Regions from separate parts of the Homo sapiens genome. Here region 2 is linked to region 1. Evidence: fine-mapped expression QTL. A gene starts in region 1. The other region holds a variant in brackets. All regions are shown on one strand. Distances are from middle to middle.

The links. PIP is the estimated chance that this variant, and not a neighbour inherited with it, causes the effect.
Region 2: its variant is the best candidate, but not a certain one, in a credible set for the expression of ZNF8-DT in whole blood (INTERVAL, PIP 0.87).

The regions. Positions count from the first base shown.
Region 1 is chr19:58,276,424-58,280,807 of GRCh38, forward strand. It overlaps ZNF8-DT (ZNF8 divergent transcript), which reads right to left and starts at 2,319. Exons shown (of 3, transcript NR_187495.1): 1 at 2,100-2,319. It overlaps ZNF8 (zinc finger protein 8), which reads left to right and starts at 2,532. Exons shown (of 4, transcript NM_021089.3): 1 at 2,532-2,724. The coding sequence starts at 2,659. ZNF8-ERVK3-1 (ZNF8-ERVK3-1 readthrough (NMD candidate)) reads left to right here and starts at 2,543. Exons shown (of 7, transcript NR_144447.1): 1 at 2,543-4,186. It also overlaps a transcript of ZNF544 not described here. RefSeq lists enhancers at 2,608-2,657, 3,078-3,127.
Region 2 is chr19:58,237,461-58,241,844 of GRCh38, forward strand. The region is part of intron 3 of ZNF544 (zinc finger protein 544); the gene reads left to right. Among named protein-coding and RNA genes, the nearest start is that of ZNF544, 11 kb to the left of the region's middle. The variant C/CA (reference allele first, on the strand shown) is at 2,438.

The sequences.
Region 1 (4,384 bases):
GCTCAGGTGAGTGAAGACATCTGTCAAAAGTCAGAATTTTATTTTTATTTTATTTTATTTTTGAGATGGAGTCTCACTCTGTCGCCCAGGCTGGAGTGCAGTGGCGCAATCTCAGCTAATCGCAACCTCCGCCTCCCAGTTTCAAGCGATTCTCCTGCCTCAGCCTCCTGAGTATCTGGGATTACAGGTGCCCGCCACCACACCTGGCTAATTTTTGTATTTGTATTAGAGACAAGGTTTCACCATGTTGGCCAGGGTGGTCTCAAACTCCTGACCTCAGGTGATCCACCCACCTCAGCCTCCCAAAGTGCTGGGATTCACTCACAGGCGTGAGCCACCACACCCAGCCAAAAGACAGAATTTTAACAAATTTGGTTAAAGATCGAATTGGCTTTTATTTGTGATTCATGAATCTGGGCAGCCTCCACTCTGCAAAACGGAATGAGAGCTCCCACGGGGCAAATGGTAGAATAGTGGTTTTTGTAAGATAGAGAAAAGGCTAATTAGTTAACACTAGGTTACTTTTCTTGTAAGGATTAAAGCAGAGGGGACTTCCTTATTATGCTGCTCAGGTAGACTGGAAATCTGGTTTGTTTAGGGATCTACCTGCTTAAAGTATCAGTCTGATTATGTGGCATTTAGCCTAAGTGACTCTGTCTTGGTTTGGTCTGGTCTCATGAGGCCTAGAGCAGGAGCTCAGTCCAAAACCATGTCCTCTCATAATTTTGTGTAACTTGCCTAACACCTGCTCCTTCTCAGGAACGAGGCCCAGCAAAAAGCAGAGACGGTACAGGGCCAGAAGGATCTGAGAGAGTGTGGCCAGCTTGAGCCCTCAGGAGTCGGCCAGAAGGATCTGAGAGAGTGTGGCCAGCTTGAGCCCCTCGGGAGTCAGCTCCTCCGTCCCCACTGGTAACGTCTTCACCCCTTCAACACGGTGTGAAGGGCCATGTCATGGTTGATCTTCAGTCCCTCAGACTACACCATCAGCCCCATGGGGGTGAGCAAATAACAAGTAACTATACTGTTCCCTGCTATGTGTCTGGCTCTTGGTAAAATTTAAAAAAGTTAAAAATTGTTGTGGTTTGAATGCAACATTTTTGAATGGAAATCTGCTTCCCCATTTTTCTTTTTTAATAACTTTTTATTTTTTTTTTGAGACGGAGTCTTGCTCTGTCACCCAGGCTGGAGTGCAGTGGCCTGACCTCGGCTCACGGCAACCTCCGCCTCCCAGGTTCAAGCGATTCTCCTGCCTCAGCCTCCCGAGAAGCTGGGACTACAGGTGCCCGCCACCACGCCGGGCTAATTTTTGTATTTTTAGTAGAGACGGGGTTTCACCATATTGGCCAGGTTGGTCTCGAGCTCCTGACATCGTGATCCACCCGCCTCGACTTCCCAAAGTGCTGGGATTATAGGCGTTAGCCACCGCGCCCGACCTTTAATAAACATTTTAATGGACTACAACAGACCCACAGAAAAAGACACATCACAAAGTGAACACCCACAGGGAGAAGCAATAGGGCTGTCAGAGGCATTCGACCCAGAGCGACTCCATTTTGAGTGAGGGCTAGGAAAATGAGGCTGGGCTGCATTCCCAGAAAAGTAGGTATTCCTAACCTCTAGATGTTTACGGTTAAGGGAACAAATTAATAATGGGTACTAAAACAGACCCAGACTTGGGAGTGTCCAGATATCCCGGTATCTAGAGAACAAAGGCATTCCTAATTTTGCTTTAAAAATAATATCGATTCTTGAAAAATACAGTAAGAAAATTAATCCTTTTTCACAAACCCTTGTAGCAGAGCACATCTCCCCAAAATCTATTTTTAGCCCAAATATACACAAGCATTGTACCTAGGGTGCATACGTTCCTCTTACTTTCAGGAACGTCCTACTGTCTATGGGGTAGCTGTTTCACAACTTTACTTTCTCAACAAACTTGCTTTTACTTTGCACTGCGGACTCGCCCTGAATTTTTTCTTGCGCGAGATCCAAGAACCCTCCCTTGGGGTCTGAATCGGACCCCTTTCCTGTAACACAACCACCGCTCCCAGCCTCCCCGCTTCCAGCCGCTAAGCCCAAAGTCTTTTATATGAACAAACCTCTAACTCGTCCTGTGACTTTGATGCGTGTGCGTTTTAGGCACCGGGGAGCAGAGGGTAAAGCGGCGCAGCTCCGGGCCTCCTCCCGCGCAAGTTCCCGAGAAGAGCAGGTCCGGCCCGCGCAGACGTGCACGGTCCCCAGCCATTAGGAGGAGCAGACGGTCCCCACCCCCACAATCAGTCATCTCTCGGGGTCCGCCCTTGCTTCCTGCCCACGAGTGAGGCCTCTGGTTGCCCGCAACCTAAGGGGCATCGCAGCCCCGAGCAACACCGCCCCCACCAGCCTTAGCTGAGTGCTCCCATTGGCCAGAGGCCAGCGGGTGGGGGCTCCCATTGGCCATCGGCCATAATGCTTCCATTGGTCGAAGGCCAGACCAGCGGAGACTCCCATTGGCCGAGGGCTGTGGTTCGCCGCACGGCCTACTGGGAGTTGTAGTCGCCGCGTCGCCGGTGCGGCCGCCATTGTCCGGCGTTCGGCGAGTCGGGTGGTCCCTTTGGCTGGAGTGCCTCTCTGGTCTGGGGATCACCTCAGGCGCTGTCCTTCACTGGGCGATCCAGCATGGACCCCGAGGACGAAGGGGTAGCGGGAGTGATGTCTGTGGGGCCGCCGGCGGCCCGGCTTCAGGTAACAATAACAACAATAACGACGGCGGCGGGCTCCGGGCAAGCGTCTCCCGCGCAGACTGACCCTTTCACCTCGCGGCGCGATGAGAGCGGCACCGCTGTTAATGCCCTTGACACGTGGGGAAACTCAGACGCGGGTCGGGGCGTGGTGACCGTCCTGGCTGGTCAGAGAGGGGGCCGGGATTCCAACCAGGCGCCTGGCCCCCGAATGCGCATGCTCCACGCGGCTCTGTCCTCCCCAGGGCTGGGGTCGGTCATTCCCGAGAGAATCGAGCAGGCCCATCTCCTGCGTTCTGCTCCGCCCCGCCGACACCCTTGCCCATTCCAGGAAGGTCTGTCCTCGTGTTGACTGATAACAGTAATTGTAGCGTTGGCCGGGTGCCCAGATGGCAAGAATCATCGAATAGAGATGCTTTAACGCGTGGAGTCAGCGGACACCCACCGGGACCCCAGCACCGCGGAGCCCCTGCCCTGGGGCTTGGGCACAACCTCTTGGGGGCAATGATGGGTCACCACGCACTGAGTGTGATGAGAGTGACCACCAGGGTCGTCCCCTGCGAGACTGTGGGAGAACTGCAGTGCAGGGCGGTCAGTGTTTGCAGGGCCATCTGGCCATCAGAGCTCCACTTTCTAGACAAAGTGGTTGCGGCCTGTGTTCTCCATAAAGCTGCCTCGCGTGGCAGGAAACAACAATAATTATCCTTCCTCAAGCTCTGCAACTTTGAAATTATACTTTTTTTTATTTTTTGTCGTTGGTTTGTTCATGGGGATTTGCATTATTTCAGATTTGGTACACAAAGTGAGACTTGATAATCTTAGGTTGCAGGTTTTCAGATGTGTGTTGCTCCAAATTTGCATGAAATGCTACCACGTTTTATTTTGTTCTTGCTGTGGATGGGGGACAAGGAATGAGTCGTAAGAAAGGCTTGAGAGAAAGTGTATTAGTTACCTGTTGCTGTGTAACTCAAAACTTCGTGACCTGGAACAACAATAAATATCTCACGAGTTCTGACAGGAGTAATGGAATGTCCTAGCTGGTGGTTCTGGTTCAGGCCCATGAAGTTACAGTGAAGATGTCAGCATAGCTGTTGTCACCTGAGACCTGAGTCTGGAGGATCCACCTCCAGGATGGCTCACTCACATGTCTGTTGATAGGAGACCTCAGTTGTTCTCCATGTAGGCCTCTCTTTGGAACTGCTAGGGATCCTTGCAACATGGCATCTGGCTTCCCACAGAACAAGTGATCCAGGAGAGGGCAAGGTAGAAACTGTAACACCTTCCATGACCTGGATTCAGAATTCACACTCTTGTCACTTCCACGGTGTCTTACTGGTTACAAAGTCAACCTTGTTGAGTGTTGGAGGGGACCACACCAGGGCTGGAGGTCATTGGCAGAGGTGGTGGGGGAGCATCTTGGAGACTGTCCATCACAGGAGACAAGGACCAGAATGGAGAGCTTCAAGGTCCAGTGTTTTATCTGGTTATCTGTGTCTGCTGTAACAATTCACTACAAATTTTGTGGCTTAAAACATTTGTTCTTAGGTTCTGGAGGTCAGAAGTCTGAAATCGGTTTTCTGGTCTGGAATCAAGGTATGAGCAGAGCTACCCTCCCTACCAAGGTTCTAGGGTAGAATGTTTCCTCGTCTTTTCCAGCTGTGAGA
Region 2 (4,384 bases), 39 kb before region 1:
TCTGCGAGTGCTGTGGCTCTGATTTCATCTTGGGGCCTAGTGTTAGGCACAGCCTGGCCTGGAGGGCGGCTCACCTCACGGGCTGACGGAGCCAGACCCTTGCCCCGCCAGCGGTCCGAGGGGCCCTTCCAGCTACAGGTAGGACCCTCACACCCACCTTCTTTTTGCTTTTTTTCCCCACTCATCCATGGAGACTTCCAAGCTGCTTTTTATCTTCCCTGTCTTCCTCATATTTTCCTTTTGTGTCTTAAATGCTGTTGGAGTGCAGCAGACACCCCAGTGTGTGACCTGTGCCAGAAGCCTGGAGCTTTGTTGGCATGGCCAGTATTCGGCATGGAGGCAGGGCCTGGGGAGGCAGCAAGGTGCGGAGCCACCCGAGGATAGAGAAGCCTGAAAATGCGTCTGGAGGTGGGGTGTTGTGGGGCCGGGGAGCTGGAAGGTGTTCCATGAGACTGACAGACGTCACAAGGTCTGTGGGGAGTGTCTGGAGATTTTTAAAACTTCTCTTGTTGCTCAGACTGGAGTGCAATGGCACGATCTCAGCTCACTGCAACCTCTGCCTCCTGGGTTCAAGTGATTCTCCTGCCTCAGCCTCCTGAGTAGCTGGGATTACAGACGTGCACCACCACGCCCGGCTAATTTTGTATTTTTGGTAGAGACGGGGTTTCACCATGTTGGTCAGGCTGGTCTTGAACTCCTGACCTCAGGTGATCCACCAGCCTTGGCCTCCCAGAGTGCTGGGATTACAGGTGTGAGTTACCACGCCTGGCTGAGATTTTTAATCTGGGAAGGGATATCTGGAGATTGTGGAGGAATTTGGGCTTTCTCCTAAGGGCAGCGAAAAGCTGGCACTCCACAGGGTTCTGTGACACAGGCTTCATTCTGTGGTGTCCCTGCGGCTTCCTGGGAGAGAGGAGAAAAGTCAAAGGCAGGACCCCATCAAACCCACCGTGGTAACCCGCACAAGAAACAGTGGCTGAGCCAGGCATGGGGCAGGCTTGTGGAGCGGTGCATAGTGCCTGGAAGACGGGGACACAGGGTTTTGGCTGAATGTGAGGAGAGCACGCAGGAGGCGTCAGGAAGGACTTCCCCTCTCACTGCTCAGTACACGTGTGAGCATCGATGTCACAGGCTTCCAGGCAGAGGAGTGCGTACGTGAGGGTCTGCTGTGCGCTCAGTACAGAGTGGGTGTGGGTTTCTGGCTCAGGAGCCTCCCGTTGTTGTCACTTCTCCTCCTCTGTCTCTGGTCCTCCCACCTCCCTCATTGTAGGGATCATTGTGGTGACCCCAACAGTCTCCCCATCTAAAGATCCTCAACGTGGGTCTTTCCTTTCCATGTAGGGTCACATATTCACAGGTTGTAGGGATTAGGATATGGCCATCATTCAACCCACTAAGTCACGGTAAAAAAAAAAAAAAAATTACAATGCCCTGATCAGCATGCAAAGGGACAGGCAGAACAGGGAGGGGACACAGGACACAGGTTTGGTGGCATCAGGGTGAGTTTCTTCTCCTTGTGCAGGGGAGGCAAGAGTGTTCAGCATTTGCTGTTAGTGTGTCCTGACTGGCCTCTGAGTTCTCCTTCGCGTTCAGGAAGAGAAGGTGGTGAAAATAAACAGGGCTGGGTGCTCTGTGGCTGCAGGTTTTCTTCACATCTGCTGATGTGTGAGGTTGGCCTCAGGCTTAAGAGTCCTGTGCCTGACACAGGCTTGCCCGCAAGGTTCTTCCTCCCTGTAAAGCCATTTCTCAGCTCAGCACAGTCAGCATTTGGGGCCAGATCATCCTCTAGGGCTGCCCCATGAGCTGTAGAATGTTTTACACCTTCCTGGCCTCTGCCCACCAGATTGCAGCCAGTAGCTGTCCCCTTCTACACCTCTTCCCCCCTCCACTCCCACCAAACTCTGGAAACTGTCTTCAAACATGGCCAATGTTCCCGGAAAGCAAAACTGCCCCCAGTTGAGGACCTCTGCTGTGAAGAAATGGCCCACTTTTCTTGAAATTCCTGAAGGCCTGTTTCTTTAAGTAAGCCTGGTGTTCACTGTGTGCGGGTCCTTGAGACCATTCTCAGGTTGACCAGATGGACTCAGAACTCTGAAAAGCTCTTATATTCACAGTTACAGTTTAGTACATTGAAAAGATACAGATTAAAATTACAAGGCCAGGCATGGTGGCTCATGCCTATAATCCCAGCACTTTGGGAGGCCGGGGTGGGCGGATCGCCCGAGGTCAGGAGTTTGAGCCCAGCCTGGCCAACATGGTAAAACCCCGTCTTTACTAAAAATACAAAAATTAGCCAGGTGTGGTGGCTTGCACTTGTAGTCCCAGTTACTTGGGAGGCTGAGACAGGAGAATCGCTTGAACCCAGGAGACTGAGGTTGCAGTGACCCAAGATTGCGCCACTACACTCCAGCCTGGGCAACAGAGCAAGACTCCATCT[C/CA]AAAAAAAAAAAAAAAATTACAGTGGTCAAAGGCACGCATGTAAACGGGAGTCCGGGAGAGACCAGGACCAGCATTCAGCTCATTCAGCTCCCAGTGGAGTTGCGTAGACAGTGCTTAATTCTCCAAACGACCATGTGGACCAGGAAGCTCACCCAAGCCTTGGTGCTTAGGTTTCTTTATTGAGGGATGTGTTATGTAGGCATGGAGCCTATATAAATTACTTTGGTTACTCAGGCCCTCCAGAGATCCCCCTAATACACCATGGCCCAGTGCCCCTGGCAGGCAGAGACATTTTAACAGGCGGGATATCCCAAGGGCTCAGAGGTTACAGCCAGTCAAGGATCAGACCTTTCTTTTTCTTTCTTTTTTTTTTTTTGGAGACAGAGTTTTGCTCTGTCGCCCAGGCTGGAGTGCAGTGGCCTGATCTCTGCTCACTGCAAGCTCCGCCTCCCGGGTTCACGCCATTCTCCTGCCTCAACTTCCCGAGTAGCTGGCACTACAGGCACCCACCACCACGCCCGTCTAATTTTTTGTATTTTTAGTAGAGATGGGGTTTCATCATGTTAGCCAGGATGGTCTCTATCTCCTGACCTCGTGATCTGCACACCTCAGCCTCCCAAAGTGCTGGGATTATAGGCATGACTTGAGGTCAGGAGTTTGAGACCAGCCTGGACAACATCCTGAAACCCCGCTTCTGCTTAAAAAATACAAAAATTAGCTGGGCATTGTGATGCGCGCCTGTGATCCCAGCTACTCAAGAGGCTGAGGCAGGAGAATCGCTTGAACCTGGGAGGCGGAGGTTGCAGTGAGCTGAGATCGTGCTACCACACTCCAGCCTGGGCAACAGAGTGAAACTCCATCTCAAAAAAAAAAAGAAAGTACAGGGTGTGGACAACCCAGGCTTACTAAACCAGCCCTGCACATTCCCTGTAATGTGTGTGTGATGTGGCAGTGTGAACATTCCAGTATCATGGAATGATGGGTTTAGCATTTACCTTTTTGGGGTAGGGGTCATTTTTTTCTTTTTCTTTTTCTCCTTCTGTTTCTCTTTCTCCTTCTCTTTTCTTTTCTTTTTGTTATTGTTGTTGTTTGAGACAGGGTCTCATTCTGTCACCGAGGCTGGAGTGTGGTGGCACGATCACTACTCACTGCAATCTCAACCTCCTGGGCTCAAGCAATCATCCTGCCTCAGTCTCTCAAGAACTTGGGACCACAGGCATGCACCACCATGGCCAGCCAATTTAAAATATATATATATATTTAAATATATATATATATATATTTTTTTTTTTTTGTAGAGATAGGGTCTCACTGTGTTGCCCAGGCAGTTCTCGAACTCCTGGGCTCAAACGATGCTTCCGCCTTGGCCTCCCAAAATGTTGGGATTACAGGCGTGAGCCAATGTGCCTGGCCCACTTTGTTCTTTTGAGTAAGTTTAATGTTGGGAGTCAGGTAAATGTGTACATACACCAACTCTGTCTTGCAAGTTGAATATTTTGTCATAACTTATGTTATACTTTAAACCTTTTTTGGTAGGGTGTGAATGCCTCCTCCCCAAACTTGTCATCTGATAGCAATTCTAATCATTCACATTCCATTTCTTTTTTTTTTTTTTTGAGGTGGAGTCTCGCTCTGTCACCCAGGCTGGAGTGCAGTAGTGCGATCTCAGCTCACTGCAAGCTCCGCCTCCTGGGTTCACGCTATTTTCCTGCTTCGGCCTCCTGAGTAGCTGGGACTACAGGCGCCCGCCACCACACCGGCTAATTTTTTTGTATTTTTTAGTAGAGACAGGGTTTCACCGTGTTAGCCAAGATGGTCTCGACCTCCTGACCTCGTGATCCGCCCGCCTCGGCCTCCCAAAGTGCTGGGATTATAGGCATGAGCCACCACGCCCAGCCTACATTCCATGTCTTTTGTGTATGTTGGTGCCTTGTCTGTCCTCCCCC